3 linked regions of the Homo sapiens genome follow. The protein of the gene in region 3 purifies or fractionates together with the protein of the main gene of each other region. This does not show direct contact. Each region holds a gene or a part of one and is shown on either strand. Other genes may lie near its edges.

Region 1 (7,021 bases), on a different chromosome or scaffold from region 3:
GTAAAAAGGTAAGAATTGGAAAAAACAATTTTGTACAGTGGCTGCATAAATGTGAACACAGTTTCATTGTTCCATTATGCCTAGATTCAATCACCTTGTCCATTTCTTATACTGCAAACTTTTAGAGTTTTCAAATAATTAACTTTTACCTAGTATAAATGATTCACAATGGATTAGAGGATCAACAAAATGTTTATCATACAGCTTGACTACTGCTAAACTTCCAGTCATAGGAAAACCAAGGACATATGCAGAGTATATGGTAACCTTAATTTCTTTAGAGTATCATTTCTCAAATTGTTCCATGAAATAGCAATTACTGTTAGGTGGGAAAATAAACTTATGTGATCAAATGTGTTTGGGAAACACAGTAGTAATGCTGAAAACAGGTTTTCATATGTAGAACTTCTCAGTCTTTAATGAGCTAACATACTTCCTTTTTTAATTTTATTTTTATTTATTTATTTATTTTTTTTTTGAGACAGTCTCACTCTGTTGCCCAGTTGCCCAGGCTGGAGTGCAGTGGCATGATCTCGGCTCACTGCAAGCCCTGCCTCCCGGGTTCACGCCATTCTCCTGCCTCAGCCTCCCGAGTAGCTGGGGCTACAGGCGCCTGCCACCACACCCGGCTAATTTTTTGTATTTTTAGTAGAGACAGGGTTTCACCATGTTAGACAGGATGGTCTTGATCTCCTGACCTCGTGATCCACCCACCTTGGCCTCCCAAAGTGCTGGGATTACAGGTGTGAAGCACTGCGCCAGGCCTTTACTTCCTACGTTTTGAGTTAGGATATTCTTCATCTTTAATTATATTCATATATATTAACATGTATACAATTTGGGAAAAGCAGCTTTATAGTAAAGTTATGTTGTAAATCAGCATTTATAGCATTGAATATAAATCTCTTCATTTTATTTACCCCATTTCATTTTATCAATATTAAGAGGAGACAAACATTCACTCTCCTTTGAATTGTTTTTAAACATATGAAAGACTGCTATTCAATTCTTGGTCCTCTTTTTTTTTCTTTCTTTCTTTTTTTTTGAGGCAAGATCTCATTCTGTCACCCAGGCTGCAATGCACTGGTGTGACCTTGGCTCACTGCAGCCTCGACTTCCTGGGCTTAGGTGATCCTCCCACCTCAGCCTCCAGAGTAGCTGGGACTACAGTCGGGCACCACCATGCCTGGCTAATTTTTAAAATTTTTTTGTAGAGTCGGGGTTTTGCCATGTTGCCAGGTTGGTCTTGAACTCCTGGGTTCAAGCTGTCTGCCCACCTAGGCCTCCCAAAGTGCTGGGATTACACACATGAGGCATGAGGCACCATGCCAGGCATGGTGGGGAGGTGGAGAGGTTGAAAGAAAGGATTATCTGTGAGAATGTGACCTTTAAAAGGGGTCCCTGCTTGAAAGACACTGGTATTCATAAACATTTATTTTTGAAATAAATTTTCTGCCTTTGAATCTTATCACTGGTTTAATAGCAATTTTTATTATTCTGTTCTGAATATATTGTTTAATATTTTGATAACAAGTAATTTTTTTTATTTTTATTTTTTTTTTTATTTTTTTTTTTGAGACGGAGTCTCGCTCTGTCGCCCAGGCTGGAGTGCAGTGGCGGGATCTCGGCTCACTGCAAGCTCCGCCTCCCGGGTTCACGCCATTCTCCTGCCTCAGCCTCCCAAGTAGCTGGGACTACAGGCGCCCGCCACTACGCCCGGCTAATTTTTTGTATTTTTAGTAGAGACGGGGTTTCACCGTTTTAGCCAGGATGGTCTCGATCTCCTGACCTCGTGATCTGCCCGCCTCGGCCTCCCAAAGTGCTGGGATTACAGGCGTGAGCCACCGCGCCCGGCGATAACAAGTAATTTTAAGAGTAAAACAAAAATGGTGATTTTTACTATGCATTATATAGTTTATGACAGCAGAATTGTATATATTACAGTATATATCACATAATTTTTAAATTTTTTTAAGAGAGCCAAACTATTTATTCCTCATTTAGTCAATACAAGCACTCAGACCAAAGGAAATATGCTGCTTAATAGCCCACATACAACTCCTTGAAATAAACAAATATAAATATTAGTACTAGGCCATAAGAATGGTTGATCTTTGTATAATTTTATCATTTACCTGCTTTTTATTGAAAGCATGGATATGTTTGTGTGTATATGCACATTTGTGTTTTAACTAAGTGAAACGAAAAAGGAAGATCTAGATTTTCACATCCATTTTCAAAATACAAGCTATATTCAGAAGCCAAAGCTAATACAAAATTCAGAAAAAGTATTCAAAAACATAGCAACACTTACTGAACTATCAAGGGTTTATCAGCAAAAATGAATGGTTTTGCTAATACAGCAGATATTGCATGATGCTTTGCTCTAGATTTTAATACCAGTCCTCTGTCACCAGGTACCTGGTTTTCTTTCAACTCTTCAATTTCCCATCTTCCTAAAAAATAAAGCAAAGCAAATTAAACTAAAACAGAAAACATTGACCTAAGAATTATTTATCAGCAGTTGTGAACAATAATTTTTATCCAGGAAGCCTGACTTGGGAAAAATAAAAATTTTAAATCAGGAAATATCTTCAACTATATATGTATGCCTGCTCATTTATCTTTTTTTTTCTATCAAAGAATGATTTCATCTTCTTAACTAAAGTTGTGAAAACTAATAGCAAACACTATAGTGTCTAATTAAGTCACTCTTAAAGCTGAATTAGTTTGGTTTTTCTATGAAAGAGTTTTTAATCAATGAAATTATAAAATGTGGTTTGTCTCAATAGGGTATGTCAATATTGTATTTTCAAAATGACATATTTGAAACTGCATATGACACATAACACAAAATGAGTAGTCTATTTATTTTGAAATGCACAATACTCATCAGCTACTTTTCTTACTTGCAGCAGTTATTGTAAAGATTTAAAGTTCATTTTGAAAACTGCATGCTTAATTCACACAAACCCTTCTCAGGGTACACTAATCAGCTCTCAGAACTTTTGGCCAGGAAGGCAGCAAAGCACTGCATAAGTGCTAAGCTACAACAAGGCAAAACTGAGTTAGGCCTTCTCTGTGTTACAATTTTCCATGTTAAGATCAGGACATTCCTGAAATTAGATTATGGGCCACATACAATGCAAAGCTAGGTGGGCTACCTATAGCCCAAAAGTTATATGTTAGACTTTACTCCTTTACTGGTTTTAGAATAGAAAATCAACTTATATTTGTTTGTGTAAAATCTTCTGTTTTGAAAATGATAGGTATTGCCTATTCCAAGAAAATTCAATTCGACAAAACTGGCTATTTTCCAGTATTGTGTCAACTCAAAATATTCATTAATGAGCACTTTTGAATCACAAATGCTCTTATATCATTTTTTTTCTTTCTAAGAAAAATAATGCAAGAACCAGACACAGTCTTATAAATCAAAGAGGGGTAATTTTTGGTCTATAATTGTACATACATTTTTAGACTTTTAAAAATGTGTGTGTTTTTATTAAGTTTCCAAGTTTCTTTTCTTTCTCCCCCTGATTTGGTCATATTATATTTTTTTGAAAAAGATTAATGTACTTGGTTTTCTTTCTCTCACATTGATGGTGAATTGTATTATCACTAACTTGTAGTTTGCCTCTCGCCCCCTATAAAGGTCTTATTTTAAGAAGTAACAACTTTATCTGGAAGTCCTAGCCAGCGCAATCTGGCAAGAGAAAGAAATAAAGGACATACAAATTGGAAACGAGGAAGTCAAGCTATCACTGTTTGCTAATGATATGATTGCATACCTAGAAAACCCAAAAGACTCATCCAATAGACTACTAGACTTGAAAAATCAATTCAATAAAAGTCTCAGCTTACAAAATCAATGTACACAAATCAGTAGTACTGCTACATAGCAACAACGACCAAACTGAAAATCAAATCAAGAACTCAATGACTTTTACAATGGCTGCAAAAAAAAAAAAAAAAATCCCTAGGAATATTCTTAACAGAGGTGAAAGATCTATCTATACAAGGAGGACTACAAAACACTGCTGAAAAAAATCATAGATGACACAAACAAATGGAAACACATCCCATGCTCATGGATTGGAAGAATCAATATCATGAAAATGATCATAGCGCCCAAAGCCATCTACAGATTCAGTGTGATTATTGTGAAAATACCAAAAACATTTTTCACAGAATTAGGAAAAAAAATCCAAAAGTTCATATGGAACCAAAAAAGAGCCTGAATAGCCAAAGTAATCCTAAGCAAAAAGAACAAATCTGGAGACATCACATTACCTGACTTCAAATTATACAGGGCCATACTATCAAAACAGCATGGTAATGGTCTCAGGTAGACACATAGACCACTGGAACAGAATAAAGAACCAGAAATAAAGCAAAATACTTACAACTAACTGATCTTTGACCAAGCATACAAAAATATAAATTAGGGAAAGGACACCCTATTTAATAAATGGTACTGAGAAAACTGGCAAGCCACATATAGAAGAATGAAACTGGATCCTTACTTGTCACCTTATACAAAAATCAACTCAAGATGGATTAAAGACTTAAACCTAAGATCTGAAACCATGAAAATTCTAGAAGATAACACCAGAAAAACTCTTCTAGACATTGGCTTAGGCAAAGAATTCATGACCAAGAACCCAAAAGCAAATGCAACAAAAACAAAAATAAATAAATGGGACCTAATTAAACTAAAAAGCTTCTGCACAGCGAAAGAAATAATCATCAGAGTAAACAGATAACCCACAGTGTGGGAGAAAATATTAATAACCTATGAATCTGACAAAGGACTAGTATCCAGAATCATGAGACTCAAACAAATCAGCAAGAAAAAAATTAATCCCATCAGAAAGTAGGCAAATGACATAAATAGACATTTCTCAAAAGAAGATATAGAAATGGCCAACGAACATGTTTAGAAAATGCTCAACATCACTAATCATCAAGGAAATGCAAATTAAAACCACAATGAGATACTACGTTACCCCTGTAAGAATGGCCATTATTAAAAAGTCAAAAAACAATTGGCATGGATGTGGTAAAAAGGGAACATTTATACACTGCTGGTGCAATGTAAATTAATACAGCCTCTATGGAAAACAGCATGGAGGTTTATTAAAAAACTGAAAGTAGATCTACTATTTGATCCAGAAATCCCACTACTGCTTTTTCTGTGCATATGGTGGTGTCCTTTTTGGAGTTGATAAGCATATATATATATATATATATATATACACACACACACATATATATACACACATATATGTGTATATGTATATATATTTGTGTATATATGTATATATGTGTATATATATACACAGGGGATTTGCTGGGATGGCGAACACCATGCAAAGGAAGACATGCAGGTATGATCTTTATCTTACACTAAACAGAAACTATGAAAAGGAAGCAGACAGCTGACATCCAACATGCTATCTGTTTTGCTGTTGTGATGTAACTGCTTATCAGAGTCTGAGTGCAGGGCCACATGTTTATGAGTATGAGGTCCTCTGAGAAAGAAGAAATTACCACTATCAGTCACTGTGAGAAGAGGCTGATCTTGCTTCAGCATATAACAATCAAGGAGGCTGGTTTTTAGACCACAAAGAAGAAAATATTTGGTCATACTCTAGGGTAGTCCTATTAGGGAAGACAATATGACCCCTGCCTATAGGACATTTCTTTCTAGAGCTAAGGTTGAAGATAATCCTATTAGACACCCTATGATAATGGATATAGACCTGGAGATGAGGATTCCAGAAGCAGCCACATATCTTGTAGCTCTCATTAGCTATCTTCTGCTTTTTACTTGCTAGGAGAATCTTACCATAAATTATAATTTATTTAATTTATAGATCAAGGTGTGTCTATGCTTGAGATGAAACCATAGAGACAGCAGTAGCCTGGGAAATACTGCTTCAGGAAATGCAAAAGACTAACAGCAGTAGAGTGAAAATTCAACTGTTCAGTTAGAAAACTAGATTAACTGGCTTAAGAGTGAGATTTTCAGAAATAGCGAAGGGTTTTTCAGAAATATTGAAGAGGGACAAGATAAAAGACTGAACATTTTATTGTGAGGCAGGGTGGGGGACTCCAGCCAACACAATTTAACAAAAATCTAATCTCAAAGTTTAGTGAACTCCAGGCCATACTGGTTATATCTAATACTTAAATAAATATTTTACCATCGTATATTGAAATTTCCTCATCCATGTCATCTTTCTTTGCTTTTGATAAGACCCATCTGTAAATAAAGTTGAACATACATATATGTCATTGACAATAAAAGCAGCAATTTATAGATATAAGGCATACAGAAACACAATAAAAGATCACCCAATACAGTCACTTTTCATTCAACAATAAATTCATACTTAGATGCTAAATAAGGATGCCTACACATAATCCTGAAGGGCTAGAGTTAAACCGAATTTGGAATCTATAATTTACTAGCTGTATGATCACAGGTAAGGTACAAGAAACCTCGGTTTCTCCACCTGTAAAATGGGGATTAAATATGGTAATTATCTACTTTTTTTAAGGACATCTGACACATAATAATCATTTAATATTAACTTTTGTTTTTTCCATTATTTAGAGTAGAGCAGTACTCATATTTGTCATCTGAACTTAAGAGTGTTAATCTGTCCTAGAGAATAAAGAAATGTTATAAATTTCATCTTTGCATTCGGAATTAGTATATTTTCTTTGAATAAATAACTATTCAAATTAAACATTCTATCAATTACAAAAATATACTAAGTACTGATTTACATTGTCAATTAAACTACTTTAAAATTTTTTATAGATCTGTAGTAGAGATAATTTTCATAGGCCAAAACCTAATAACTTCAAAAAAGCTAATAAATCAAAGAAAACATTCTCTTGAATGAATACTCACCCAGCCAACCTTCCACTATCAAAAGTTTCTGCAAAATATACTTCTCCTATAGGTTGAGGTGTCTTATATTTAATCTAGAAAAGAGATTTTCCAAGT
Region 2 (7,564 bases), about 65 Mb from region 3:
AGGAGAGAGAAGTGTCCCCAAATCTCTCATCATGAAGGATCTGGAAACAGATGGAACATAATGGAGGCAAATATTTATTTTAAAGATAAGTTACTTCATGCACATTTCCACATGATGACCTCACATACTTGTAGCTCTAGTAAGATAGCAGTAGATTCTAGCACTAATAGAGTGAATCAAGTGAAGCTATTCCTGTACAGCTGAAACCTAAAATCCCTATTTTTTTTCTAAAACACTCACCACCCTTTCATTTTTACAAGGGGTTTTACATTTTACACCCTCTCATTTTTACATTTTACATTTTTACAATGTGCTCTTGACCAGTAACCTCCTCTGAGCCTCAATGCCCCTAACTATCCCTCCTACACATTCTAAGCACTTTTGAGGGTTTGGAGATGGAAGATAATTACATTTCAATATCTTCTTAAGCAATTTTTATGTTTGCTGGATACCTTCAAATACTTGAATGAAAATACAAGAGCAAGATAAAAGTTCTTACAAAAATTACTAAATACATGCTTCAGTCATACAGAGCCCTCGGGCACAGTAAAGTTTAAGGTATGACATGAAATTGCGTACCAAAACCTCCAAATAGGTCTTTTTTATTTTATTTTATTTTTTGAGACAGAGTCTCGCTCTTGTTGCCCAGGCTGGAGTGCAACACTGGGCTCGGCTCACTGCAACCTCCACCTCCCAGGTTCAAGTGATTCTCTTGCCTCAGCCTCCCGAGTAGCTGAGATTACAGGAACCCGCCACCACGCCCAGCTAATTTTGTGTATTTTTAGTAGAGATGGGGTTTCGCCATGTTGGCCAGGCTGATCTCAAACTCCTGATCTCAGGTGATCCATCCATCTCAGCCTCCCAAAGTGCTAGGATTACAGGCATGAGCCACCACGCCCGGCTGGTCTTTTCTGTTTTCTAACTTTAAATATATACAGATACAATTTTAATAAACATGCAATAAATAGTGGATTTTAAACTAGGCCTCAAAAAAGTTCATATGTATAAACAGTCTTTAAAACAGTAAGGCTTTCCCATTTTATTTCTCAGGTGAATGGGATATCTAGTTTCAAAAATTAAGAACTTGAGAGTTCATGTGAGAAATACTTGTAATTAATATACTATTCTCTCATTTAATCTGTGGTGACTTCTAAGATGAATAGAAAACCCACTTTCAGGCATTTTTTAAGAACCTGATATTCTAAAGTTCTCAACACTCACTCAATCAAGTTGCAGTATTCTCAGTTTAAGAGGTATGACCATAATACAAAGACAGAATTTCACAAGCAGCTTGTACAAACCTTAAATTTCAAAATATAAGCACACTTTCCCCGACCTTTAACCACTTCACCAAACTGCTCCTCATTGACCCAACTGGACTAATGCCATTCAGAACTGGAAGAGCAGGGGATATGGCAGTAGGAAGGCAATTTGCCCAACATTGTATATACCCTCTGCTCCTTAGGTCAAATCCTACACAGATAGGCTCACTTCGGATAGAAGTCTCTAGGGTAAGAAACTTCTGTTAATACTCCCACTGTTTCCTCCTGAAAACAAACACCTCAGAGTTCCAGTCGCGTAGGTACAGCCATACAGACATGTTCTCAGGGTTGAGGTGAGGGCAGCTGAGCTAGATAACTAGCAAAGGCTCAGTGATATGCACGACACTAGTTTGTAAAGACTCACAGATCCACTCCCGTAACCTGCCACTGGCTCATCTATAAATTAAGGGTACTAAACTTCTTCATAGGTTTCTTGCATCTAATAGGGCACAACAGCATGAAAAAAACTTAAAATTCTATATAAACACAACCCCACCAAAGTGAGCCAGCTTGGAGGTTTAAGGAAGCCCATTACTTGGCCTGGATTTCTCACAGGGAACTGACAGGGAACCTGAAACATTCTGTCTCAGTCCACAACAGCTGTGTCATTTGATCCCTGGCCAGCTAACACCTGGTTTCTGCATGTACCAAGTGGCAGGACACCTCCTAAGAGTGACCTATGAAGGATAAATCACTTCACTTTTATACTTAGATCCTAACATCCTTCCTACAGGAATATTTGGTGAATTACCCAGTCTGACAAATAGCTGAGGCATGGGGAAAAATAACCTGCCACAATTTGAGAACACACACACAGACTGAATGACACAGGGGGAATCCTACAGCTGAGCTAGACAGATGAAGATGCATCTGGCTCATTTAACAGGTGAGAGAACCCAGTCTCAGAAGTTAAATGACTTGCCCAGACTGACAGCAAATGAATGGCAGCTACAGTGAACCTCAGAACCCGGTGTTCTAACGTTACCTCGGTCGAGACTTGTTTTTACTTAAGCTTTGCAATGAAGATTTTTGTTTTAACACGAGCATCCCATGGACAAATAACCTCTCAAACCTGGAAATACAAATGCCATTAAATTCCCAACAGTCATTAGAAGCTAATAAGCATCTGCTGAGACACACTTTTATTTCTAAGTCACTAAACCCAAGTCTCGGCAAACAGGAAGCTGTCGTAGCCCACTCCAGGTACAGGGAAGGTAAACATCCTCACTTCCCACGGGGCTCCACGGGCTGCCTCTGAGTCCACGGGTCCATTCAGGCCCATCTCCCCACAGCTCCTAGGCAATTCGGCAGAAAACTGGTCTCCCTAGGCACAACTGTGCACGAGGTACGGATCACGCGAGGTGCGGATCACGCACGCTCCGGGTCACACAGGGAGCTAAAGATAGCTGCGCCGCACCTGGGGCAGCCTCGCCCGGGGATGTGCCCGGCCCCGTCCCGCTCCCTCCGGCCCCTTCCCATAAGGGGTCCTCGCCGGTAGCCCCACCAACCCACGCTCGGGCCCTGCCTGCCCTCCCGGTCCCTGCCACTCAGAATGGGCGGCGCGGCGGCCCCGAGGCCTAGCTCGGCTGAGCCCGCACCTACCCACAGCTCCGCCGCCGCGGCTCCGGCCCTGCCCCTAGCCCACCGCAGGCCAGCTCCGCCGGGGCGCTTCCAGGGCCGGGGCCGCTGCGCCCGCACTGGGCATGCCCGGGCCGCACGGGGCCGCTGGGAAGTCGGGCGAGCGCGAAGAACCAGCCGGCACCACGAGGCGGGGCCCAGAGCCGAAGGGGTGGGCCGCGCGGAGCGACGGAGACTGGGAAATGTAGTCAGTCCGGGGTCCCGCCTCGCGCTGCGTGCGGGATCGTCCGGCTCCCAACTCCGCCTGGCGGCGGAGAGGACCCCTCACCCCTCCGCGTCGCCTCCTCCCCGTCGCCTCCTCGCCGATCCCGTTCTCACAGATCTCTCCTCCTGTTCTTTGCCCTCCCCCATTGACTCCACAACGCTGCTTGCGTTTCTAAAATCCTGTGAAATTAGTAACAGGATGCCTTTAATCCCAGCATTTTGGGAGGCCAAGGCAGGCAGATCACGAGGTCAGGAGTTCAAGACCAGCCTGGCCAACATAGCGAAACCCCATCTCTACTAAAATAACAAAAATTAGCCAGGTGTGGTGGTACCTGCCTGTGGTCCCAGCTACTCAGGAGGCTGAGGCAGGAGAATTACTTGAACTCAGGGGATGAAGGTTGCAGTGAGCCGAGATCACACCACTGCACTCCTGCCTGGGCGACTGAGCAAGACTCAGTCTCAAAATAATAATAATAATAATAAATTTAAAAAATGAAATAAAATAAGTGGCTGGGCACGGTGGCTCATGCGTGTAACCTCAGCACTTTGGGAAGCTGAGGCGGGCAGATCACTTGAGGCCACCCTGGCCAAGATGGTGAAATCCCGTCTCTACTAAAAATACAAAAAATTAGCTGGGCATGGTGGCACACACCTGTGGTCCCAGCTACTTGGTCGGCTAAGGAATGAGAATCACTTCAATTCAGGAGGCAGAGGTTGCGGTGAGCCGAGATCGCACTACTGCACTTCAGCCTGGGTGACACAGCTAGACTGTCTCGAAAAATAAAATAAAATAAAACAAAACAAAACAATATAAAATAGAATAGAATAAGGAATCCATCTACTAAAGCTTAGAAATCTTGTTACAAAGAGACCTAAGTGGTTTAATGACAAACTGATTATTGTGCTATTAATTATAATAATAGCTCTTCCTCCAAGCTCTATTCTTTCTCAAGAGTGTCAATTTAGAAAAGATTTTAGAAAGAATTTAGTAGGTATGAGTTTATTCTGGCTTACTTCATGGGAGGAAATCTTTTTTTTTTTTTTTTTTTGAGACTGAGTCTGTCTTTGTCTCCCAGGCTGGAGTGCAGTGGTGCGATCTCGGCTCACTGCAAGCTCCGCCCCCTGGGTTCACGCCATTCTCCTGCCTCAGCCTCCTGAGTAGCTGGGACTACAGGCACCTGCCACCAAGCATGGCTAATTTTTTTGTATTTTTAGTAGAGACGGGGTTTCACCGTGTTAGCCAGGATGGTCTCGATCTCCTGACCTCGTGGTCCGCCCACCTACAGCCTCCCAAAGTGCTGGGATTACAGGCGTGAGCCACTGCGCCTGGCCGGGAGGAAATCTTTTAAATCTCAACATGTATAACCACATTTAAAATAAAAACCAATAATAATTAATACCTTGCATTTTTAAAGAGCTCTCACATGCTTATGTATGATTAGATGCTATTTGTGGACAAGTAGAGGATATTATTTTCCAAATTTCACAAATGAGGAAGTTTGTGGCAGAGCACTTTGAGAAGACATGACCTCCAGTTAAGCTGTGAACCTTAGTTTCTTTTTTTTTTTTTTTTTTTTTTTGAGACAGTGTCTCTCTATCTTGGCTCACTGCAAGCTCCACCTCCCGGGTTCACACCATTCTCCTGTCTCAGCCTCCCAAGTAGCTGGGACTACAGGTGCCCGCCACCACGCCCGGCTAATTTTTTGTATTTTTAGTAGAGACGGGGTTTCACCATGTTAGCCAGGATGGTCTCGATCTTCTGACCTCGTGATCCACCCGCCTTGGCCTCCCAAAGTGCTGGGATTACAGGTGTGAGCCAGCACGCCTGGCCCAAACCTTAGTTTCTTTAACACAGGCTGCTGAAATAAATGGTATATATATGAAGGTGTTTTTTAACTGTATGGATATATGATTTAGTGAAATGATAACAATACTAGATCTAGTGATAGCGACAGGAGACAGCCAAATGCCTAGGCAGTTAGTGGCGGGTCCCCATTGAAACCCCACCTCCAAGCCAAAAACAGTTTAAAGCTCGAAAGCCAAGCTACAAGTTAAGTCCTCAGACCAGATTGAGAACTTGTCTTCCTGTCTTGCATGTTTTCCTCTGATTGATCCCCACCCTTCACCTATTTTACATATACCTACCCTTTCCTGATTGGTTTTCTACACTGTTGTGCCCACCTTTGAGTGGTGCCTTTGCTTTAACCTTTCTTGCATAGCCACAAACCAATCTGCACATACTCCCCATCCTGTGCCTATAAGGACCCCTGACTTAGTCAGTAGAGTGGGAGACCGCCTGACTTTGAGGAAGACGACCTGCCCTTCCTGTCCCTTCTCCAGCTCCCCTCACTGCTGAGACTCGTTTTCATCACTAAAAAAAATTCTCTGCCCTCAACATCCTTCTTTGTTTTTTTCTTTGTTTTTTTTTTTGAGACAGAGTCTTGCTCTGTCACCCAGGCTGGAGTGCAATGGTGCAATCTCAGCTCACTGCAACCTATGCCTCCTGGGTTCAAGCAATTCTCCTGCCTCAGCCTCCTAAGTAGCTGGGATTATAGGCACCTGCCACCACGCCCAGCTAAGTTTTTGTATTTTTAGTAGAGATGGGGTTTCACCATGTTGGCCAGGCTGATCTCAAACTCCTGACCTCAGGTGATCCACCCACCTCAGGCTCTCAAAGTGTTGAGATTACTGGCGTGAGCCACCGCACCTGGCCCGCCATCCTTCAATCCTGCATGTGACCTCATTCTTCTTGGACACTGGACAAGAGCTTGGGACCCACCAAGTACAGGTACCCAGAAAGGCTGTCACACTGGTCCTTTGCCCCCACCAGTGGAAGGCAGCTGCCCCACGTGACAAGGCAAAGGGCCAACTGAGCTACTAACACACTGCTGTTTGTGGATGATGAAACTAAAGGAGCACTGTAACACCCGCTCTGAGGCTTCAGGGTCATGGGCACTTTCACCTGGGCACTGCAGTGTTCCTCTTGAGGCAACATGCCTGGTCTGGCCACAGGCCCCACACAGAGCTTGCTCCTGTGCCAGTGCCCAGAGTGGCTGGCTGGATCTTGAACTTGCTTGCTCATGTGCTCCCTCCTGCAAGTGGTTGATTGTGGTGGGCCTGGTAGACAAGGCGCCCCCTTCCATGAGTTTGTCAAAGGGGCCAAGAAAAATCCTGCATCATTAGGGGCCAGATCTCCTAGCTTCCAGCCTTGGAATCTTCTAGGAGAGAGAGATACTATGATTTATTAAGCATCTACTATACCAAGCCTTTTATATTTATTATTTCAACAACAATTTAAGTGTTGTAATGAAAAATTATCACTATTTTTTTTTGTTTTTGAGATAGAGTCTCACTCTGACACTCAGGCTGGAGTACAGTGGCATGATCATGGCTCACTGAAGCCTTGACCTCCTGGGCCTAAGCAATCCTCTTGCCTCAGCCTCCTGAGTAGCTGTTGTAGCTGATTTAAAAAAAAATTCCATGCCTTCCTATTAAGAAAAAAAAACTCCAACCAGGTTTGTCTAACGCCCGATTCCACACCCTTTCCTCTACCATATTTGTGTTCCATTATGGATCACAAAAGTCTTCTCATTTAAATTTAGGTTGTGTATTGTCATTATTAAAGTAGTGCTCCTCTTTGTTTTGCCTGTGGTTGCTAAAAGAAAAAAAGAGAGAGAGAAAGAAAATAATGAAAGTGTTGGCCAGTATGGTGGCTCATGCCTGTAATCCCAGTACTTTGGGAGGCAGAGGCGGGTGGATCACCTGAGGTCAGAAGTTTGAGACCAGCCTGAACAACATGGTGAAACCCTGTCTCTTCTAAAAATACAAAAATTAGCCTGGTGTGGTTGTGCACACCTGTAGTCCCAGCTACTCAGGAGGCTGATGCAGGAGAATCACTTGAACCTGGGAGGTGGAGGTTGCAGTGAGCTGAGATTGTGCCACTGCACTCCAGCCTGGGCACTAGAGCGAGACTCTGTCTCAAAAAAAAAAAAAACAAAAAAAAACTGCCATTCCTCATGGGTCTTACAGATGCAACTCCCTGCTGGGAACTCAAGCCCTTTTTTTTGCCAGGAAAGGTAAAATCATCTGGGGGTAGAACCAAAAAATGTACAGGTTAATAGAATTATGAAATTTAAGATGTTTAAACAGGGTTTATGTAACGTAGTTGTAATCTCTTTGCCTAAATGTCTTATGAAAATGGGTATTGTATCTAGCTGGAGGATGCTTCCCCTATCTAGTACTATAAAACCAAAGACATGTAAAGCTGCTCTTTTGAAAAGTGTTAGTTGGACATGTTAATGGGAAATAGTAAAATCACCTGAGCCCACAAAGTATCAGGTAGAAGCTAGAGTACTAGTTGGGACAAATCATCCCCTTCATAGCCCTTTGTGGAGTGTTTA
Region 3 (7,343 bases):
AATGATGTGTGGACAATTCAGCGGTAGGTTACCTGCAATTCCTGGTGCACCTGCTACACACCAGGGCATGCTGGGACTGACCACCCTGGAGTGAGCAGGATGTTAGGATTGGTCACTGCAGCATAAGAAGCTGCTGTGGATGAATGCCTGCATAGCAGTCAAAAAATTCCCCAGACTGTCACTGTCCTTCCCTCTACTTTGCCTCTCCTCAATCTGTGGCTATTATGCTTTTATCCAGGTGGCTCAATTTTTTAATTTTCACCTATTGTCAAGCCCAGGATCACCCTACAGGTGTAGAGAGTGGGTTGGCCAGGTATAAGAGAAATCTAAATTGTTCTGAAGGTGTGAGGCAGGCCTTGGCTAGATCTGGGGGATAACCTTGCCTCAACTGCAGGGGCCACCTCTTGGTCCTGCTTGCACAGTCTTGATGAGGCTGTGTGTATTTGATGCTCACCTGTGAACTATAAAACCTGTGGGCAACACAGCAGGATGGTGCCAGTGCATTACTAAGAAATTGTACCTGGAGAGTGAAAGTTGGATCAAGGTTTCATTGCTTCATTTTTTTCAACCACATAAAGTAATTGTGCTGGGTTTTAAAAGGTAGAGCTGGGGGCCTAAGTGGTTAGTCAAGTCCTACTTTTGAACTTCCTAAAATCTGACGTCTCTCACCCTGCCCTGGCAGAGTGCCATCAGGAGAATCTAGGAGACTCGAGAAGCCACTTCACCTAACATCCTCATTGTGATCTCTCTAAGAAAGCTCGCTGATGACGCAGCCCCTGTGCTTCTCACACTCAACAGTAGCTGTGTTAGATGCACAGGTAAAAAGGCTCATTTTCACCAGCCTCCAACCAAGGCATCTGCAGGGACACTTCAGCATGTCACCGCACCAGACAGTGTTGCTGCCCTTGGCTCTCTGTGAGCATGCAGGCCCAGAGATGCCAGATCCTCTGCAATTTCAGGAGTAGCCAAAAGTCCGGATCTTCATGCTAATACTTCTGATTTTTTTTTTTTTTTTGAGATAGAGTTTCGCTCTTGTCGTCCAGGCTGGAGTGCAATGGTGCGATCTGGGCTCACTGCAACCTCCGCCTCCTGGGTTCAAGCGATTCTCTTGCCTTAGCCTCCTGAGTAGCTGGGATTACAGGCCTGTGCCACCACGCCCGGCTAATTTTGTGTTTTCAGTAGAGATGGGGTTTCTCCATGTTGGTCAGGCTGGTCTCGAATTCCCGACCTCAGGCGATCCACCCACCTCGGCCTCCGAAAGTGCTGGGATTACAGGCGTGAGCCACCGTGCCCGGCCAATACTTCTGAATTTTTAAGGAGATAACTAAAACTTCAAAAATGTTTTAAAATTAAAAAACAATATGGCCGGGCACGGTGGCTCATGCCTATAATCCCAGCACTCTGGGAGGCCGAGGTAGGTGGATCACTTGAGGTCAGGAGTTTGAGGCCAGCCTGGCCACCATGGCGAAACCCCTTCTCTACTAAAAATACAAAAATTAGCTGGGCACGGTGGCGGGCACCTGTAGTCCCAGCTACTCGGGAGGCTGAGGCACGAGAATCTCTTGAACCCAGGATTCGGAGGTTGCAGTGAGCCGAGGTCACCCCACTGCACTCCAGCCTCCAGCCTGGGTGACACAGTGAGACTCCATCTCAAAAAAAAATAAAAATAAAAAAATAAAAAGAGAAACAGTAACAGAAGCTACAACAAAAACTAAACACCATGTAACTAAACACTATCAGAGCCAAACCACATAGACCTGTGGGTCACGGCCATGGCCCACCAGCTCTGGGGCTCCTCAGTTCTAAGATTCTGCTCTCCAGCTCCCTCCCACTGGTCATCAGTGTTGTGACTCGTGCCCTGGGTGACAGTCATGTCCGCTTTTGGAACATTACTTCCCCTATCTGCAAGAGGCAAGTCACCCCTACCTTCTCCCCAGCTAAATGTGTCCCCAGGACTTTCCCCAGTGAACCAGCCCAGCACCTGGCCCCCTGGTACCTTGGAGATGGAGGCTGGGCAGTAAGAAAGACGCTGGGCTGGGTGCGGTAGCTCACACCTGTAATCCCAGCACTTTTGAAGGCCAAGGCAGATGGATTACCTGAGGTCAGGCATTTGAGACCAGCCTGGCTGACATGGTGAAACCCCATCTCCACTAAAAAACACAAAAATTAGCCGGGCGTGGTGGCACACGCCTGTAATCCCAGCTACTCAGGAGGCTGAGGCAGGAGAATTGCTTGAGCCTGGGAGGCAGAGGTTGCAGTGAGCCGAGATCGTGCCACTGCACTCCAGGCTGGCCAACAGAGTGTGACTCTGTCTCAAAAAAAAAAAAAAAAAAAAAAAAAAAGATGCTGCACTCCTCTTTTCTTTGCTACTTTCCTCTCCTGGGTTTTTCTCTGCAGGCCACACTGCTTTTAGAAGCCTTTCCCTTCATCTACCACCCGCTGAACATCACCGATGGCAGGCCAGCACTCTCTCAGCTCTCTGGGTAAGACTCAGCTCTCTGGGCTAAGTCTGAGCTCATCTGCCAGCCTAGTGATCTTGCCAAGAGAGGAAGGAGCTGGATCTGATGTGATCTGAACTTCGTCACCATACCGTCACAGCTGATGACCTAAGCTTCCTCCAAGTCGAGGGATGGTGCAGCTCCATTGAAGTCTCCTCTTCTCTCCTCCAGGCTCTGCCCACCTCACGAGAGCACATGGTCCTGACTGCAGTGACTGCAGGAAGACCTGGGATGGAGGGCTTTGCTTTCTCACCATCCTCTTGGCCTGGCTTCTCTAACATGTTAAAAACTTACAGTGGCCCACAACTGTAATCCCAGGACTTTGGGAGGCCGAAGCAGGTGGATCATGAGGTCAGGAGTTTGAGACTAGCCTGACCAACATGGTGAAATCCCATCTCTACTGAAAATACAAAAATTAGCCAGGCGTGATGGCACGCGCTTGTAATCCCAGCTACTCAGAAGGCTGAGGCAGGAGAATTGCTTGAACTCAGGAAGTGGAGGTTGCAGTGAGCCGAGATTGTGCCACTGCATGGCAGCCTGGGCGACAGAGTGAGACTTCGTCTCAAAACAAACATACAAACAAACAACAACAACAAAAAATCCCTCGCTTTTTTGCTGGTATCTATAGTGCTTTTTTTGCTGGTATCTATAGCTTTTGTGAGACTCAGTTTATTTAGCTTTAGCTTTCCTGATATTATTATTCTTACAAATTTTGCCTTGGGACACTCTTTCCATTCATTGATTCAGGCAATACTTATTGAGCACCTACTATTTGCCAAGCACTGGGAAGCCATTGAGAATAAAACAGTGAAGAGTTAGAAAAGGTCTCTGATCTGATGGAGGGCCTATTCTACTGGTGCTAACTGAACAAGTAATATGTGCTCTGAAGACATTAAAACAAGACAATGTGATGGGGGATGCTGAGAATCCAGTAGGAAACTACTTAGATGGGAAAATCAGGGAAGGTCCCTACAAAGGAGACATATATGCTGAAACCTCAATAAAGAGAAGCAGCCAGCCATGCAAGGATATGGAGGGAGAGCAGTTATGGCAGAGGGGTCAGCAAAGACAAAGGCCCTGAGGCAGGGAGGAGCTTAGCATGGAAGGGGAACCTGGGAGGCCGGCTGGCTGGACTTGAGTGAACATGGGGCTGAGATGAGATCAGAGGAGAGCAGAGGCCAGATCCCCCGGGCTCCTAGGTCAGGGTGGGGCTGGTGCTTAGGAGTTCTGAGGCTGACTCTGATTTAGTCTGAGGTCGGTGTCCCTCTCAATCCCGACTCACTTGTGGTCCTCTATGGCCCGCAGGCTTGTTGAAAGTGCCCCACTTCCTTCCTCACAGCAGCCTCTGTGCAATCCGAATTGCGCTGTGAATTTCCCTGCCACTCAGGAGCCCGGGGCAGGGCTTCACCCCTAGTTCAGTTACCAGGAACCAATCTTTCTCCACCTTCCTGCCCTAGCCCCACTGGGTCTGTCTCTGCATCTGTGAAATGGCTGAGTGTGACCAAATGATGCAGGTAGCCTTTCCACTTCTTTCTACCCGTGGCGCCTCGGGTGGAGGCGTGGAGTTTGATTGGAAGAGGGTAAAGCAAAAGTGGAATCCTGGCGAGAAATGAAACTGAAAGAAAAAATTCCTCCTGGAATTTTTTGGCTCTAAGGAGGCCAGCAGCGGGGGTTTGGGGTAGGAGGCAGAGGTAGAGAAGGAGGGAGGTTTTTAGAAAGCTGACCGGGCAGGAGCCCTGTGACCCAGGCTTTCACTTCTCCTAAACACCCAGTAGCGCCATGTGATGCAGGCAGGGGACTGCGGATAGGGCCTGTGAAAGGGGAAGCGAGGGGAGCCCAGAGTTTCTCAAGAAGCCGAGAGAGGGACAGAGGCTGAGCCTGGGGGGAGGGCTGCAGGGGACTGAGAGGGGAGTGTAGGCAGTGGGGGTGAGGGGGACAGGGAGGAGGTGGAGAAGACGGCAAGGGGCAGCAGGGTGACTGGGGCAGAGGGAGCCCCCACCCCACGCCCAGGGCAGGCCAGGAGTCATAAGGAGAGGGGACAACAGGAAGGGGCGACAAACGGGGAGGGGAAAGGGAGGCGGAGGGGCAGCGAAGTGAAGCAGGGAGGGTCGCAGTGTGAACAAGAGTGCGAGGAAGGGTCAAGGTGGAGGGAGGAGAGGGGAGAGTTAGGGAGAAACAGCTGCAGGAGAGGCGCGGGGAGGAAGCCTTAGGGGTGGGGGAAGGGAGAGGGGAGTTGAGAATTAGGGAGGAGGTGGTAGAGTCCGGGTAGTGAGCGGAGGGACAGGAAGGGTAGGGCAAGAAAGGGAGAGGGGACAGGAGGGAAGGGTGGGCCAAAGCGGTGAGAAAGGAGGGCCAGCCAGTTGGGTGGGGGAGAGGGCCGAGGCCCGGGGGCAGGAGTGCAGGGCTCTGAGGCGGGGAGAGGAGAGGAGAGAAGAGCCGCGGGGGGCCCAGCCCGGAGCCAGGATGCCCGCGCCGCGCGCCCGGGAGCAGCCCCGCGTGCCCGGGGAGCGCCAGCCGCTGCTGCCTCGCGGTGCGCGGGGCCCTCGACGGTGGCGGCGGGCGGCGGGCGCGGCCGTGCTGCTGGTGGAGATGCTGGAGCGCGCCGCCTTCTTCGGCGTCACCGCCAACCTCGTGCTGTACCTCAACAGCACCAACTTCAACTGGACCGGCGAGCAGGCGACGCGCGCCGCGCTGGTATTCCTGGGCGCCTCCTACCTGCTGGCGCCCGTGGGCGGCTGGCTGGCCGACGTGTACCTGGGCCGCTACCGCGCGGTCGCGCTCAGCCTGCTGCTCTACCTGGCCGCCTCGGGCCTGCTGCCCGCCACCGCCTTCCCCGACGGCCGCAGCTCCTTCTGCGGAGAGATGCCCGCGTCGCCGCTGGGACCTGCCTGCCCCTCGGCCGGCTGCCCGCGCTCCTCGCCCAGCCCCTACTGCGCGCCCGTCCTCTACGCGGGCCTGCTGCTACTCGGCCTGGCCGCCAGCTCCGTCCGGAGCAACCTCACCTCCTTCGGTGCCGACCAGGTGAGTGGCAGGAGGCCTGCCCCGGCATACTCCGGCGGGTGTGGAGGGAAGGAGGGCTGGCCCCCAGCGTGACCTGGGACAAACCAGGTCCCCTGCCTGCACTAGTTTCCTGATTTGAAAGAAGAGGGGGGCTAGCCCTTGCAAAACCGATGGCAACCGCAGTGGGAATAACCATGGTTGTTTTTTTGTTTGTTTTATTTTTTGAGACGGAGTTTCACTCTGTCGCCCAGGCTGCAGTGCAATGGCGCGATCTCAGCGCACTGCAACCTCAGCCTCCCGGGTTCAAGCGATTATCCCTCCTTAGCCTCCAGAGTAGCTGGGATTACAGGGGCCTGCCACCACGCCCAACTAATTTTTGTAATTTTTTTTTTTTTTTAAGTAGAGGTGGGGTTTCACCATGTTGGTCTTGAACTCCTGACCTCAGGTGATCCACCTGCCTAGGCCTCCCAAAGTGCTGGGATTACAGGCATGAGCCACCACGCCAGGCAGGTTGGTCTTTTTTGAGCTACTTGCAGGCCCTATGCTAAGCACTTTCACTGTTTAACTGATTTAATACTCTTCACCACCCAGGAAGTAGGAATTATTATGCCCATTTTACAGAGAAAGACACTGAGAGGTTTCATGGCATTAATCAACTTGCCCAAGGTGACATGGAGGGTCGAGGAGCCGAGTAAAGGCAGCTGGACTCCAGGTCCCACCATGAACCTCCTCTCTGTGTGTTATGGGGATGTGCGGGCAGGGCAGGAGCAAGCCAGCTTCTTCCTACCAGCAGTGCTAGAGGCTGTCAGGCCGACTTGCTCAGATCCCAGCTCTGCCTTTCACTAGCTGGAGCCACATGGGCAAGAACTCATTTATATCCTGAATGGGCTGCCTGGTCTTCTCCCTTAGCTCAACCTCTGAGCCTTTCTCCGTTCCCCCTTGAACAGAGCATGGCACGTAGAAGAAATTTAATAAGTATTTGCTAAATGAATGAGTAAATGCCCAACAACACGGCTATATTTTGATAGCTGTTCCCAGTGGGATATTAGACAATAATTTAGACTAAAATGTAATATTATTAAAATAACCACATATGGTGTAAATGAGCAAAAGCAGGAGGCAGGACTGCATACAGATAGGACTGCAGCCATGTGGAAAGACGAGGTGTCAACGAAAGGAAACTGGAAAAAGATTGTCACAGTGGTATGATCAGGCCACTGGACTAATTGCACTTTCTTCTTGTCTCAGTTTATCAAATGTTCTTTGATTGCACATATTATACTCATAAAGGGGACATTTTTCAAAAGGATCGTTTCATCCAATTGGCACCCACAATTCAGCACCTAGCAGTTTCCAGTGTCCTTGACAAGGAGTCACTTGTCCAGCTTGTTTAGGATCCTTTGATGATGACTTCATGCCCCCAGGCCAGCCCTGGCCATCTCTTTTCTTTCTTTCTTTCTTTCTTTCTTTCTTTCTTTCTTTCTTTCTTTCTTTCTTTCTTTCTTTCTTTCCTTCTTTCTTTCTTTCTTCCTTTCTTTCTCTTTCTCTCTCTCTCTTTCTTTCTCTTTCTTTCTTTCTTTCTTTCTTTCCTTCTTTCTTTCTTTCTTCCTTTCTTTCTCTTTCTCTCTCTCTCTTTCTTTCTCTTTCTTTCCTTCTTTCCTTTCTTTCTTCCTTTCTTTTGACGGAGTCTCGCTCTGTTGCCTACGCTGGAGTGCAGAGGTGCGATCTCAGATCACTGCAACCTCCACCTCCCGGGCTCAAGCAATTCTCCCTGCCTCAGCCTCCCAAGTAGCTGGGATTATAGGTGCCCGCTACCACGCTGGCTAGTTTTTGTATTTTTTTAGG

The links. The genes of interacting proteins can lie anywhere in the genome.
Region 1: the proteins of SLC15A3 (region 3) and CLGN purify together in Homo sapiens (affinity purification with mass spectrometry; 2 studies listed by BioGRID and IntAct, with this or other methods). This does not show direct contact.
Region 2: the proteins of SLC15A3 (region 3) and EI24 purify together in Homo sapiens (affinity purification with mass spectrometry; 2 studies listed by BioGRID and IntAct, with this or other methods). This does not show direct contact.

Annotation. Positions count from the first base shown.
Region 1 is NC_000004.12:140,403,628-140,410,648, forward strand, and holds part of CLGN (calmegin precursor), read right to left. Parts: intron 7,000-7,021; coding exon 6,926-6,999; intron 6,269-6,925; coding exon 6,210-6,268; intron 2,457-6,209; coding exon 2,315-2,456; intron 1-2,314. UniProt on the Homo sapiens protein: Functions during spermatogenesis as a chaperone for a range of client proteins that are important for sperm adhesion onto the egg zona pellucida and for subsequent penetration of the zona pellucida.
Region 2 is NC_000011.10:125,564,934-125,572,497, reverse strand, and holds the start of EI24 (etoposide-induced protein 2.4 homolog), read right to left. Parts: upstream 3,022-7,564; 5' UTR 2,925-3,021; intron 2,395-2,924; exon of another isoform or gene 2,308-2,394; intron 2,209-2,307; exon of another isoform or gene 2,056-2,208; intron 41-2,055; 5' UTR 1-40. UniProt on the Homo sapiens protein: Acts as a negative growth regulator via p53-mediated apoptosis pathway. Regulates formation of degradative autolysosomes during autophagy.
Region 3 is NC_000011.10:60,949,170-60,956,512, reverse strand, and holds the start of SLC15A3 (solute carrier family 15 member 3), read left to right. Parts: upstream 1-4,336; 5' UTR 4,337-4,961; coding exon 4,962-5,519; intron 5,520-7,343. UniProt on the Homo sapiens protein: Proton-coupled amino-acid transporter that transports free histidine and certain di- and tripeptides, and is involved in innate immune response. Also able to transport carnosine.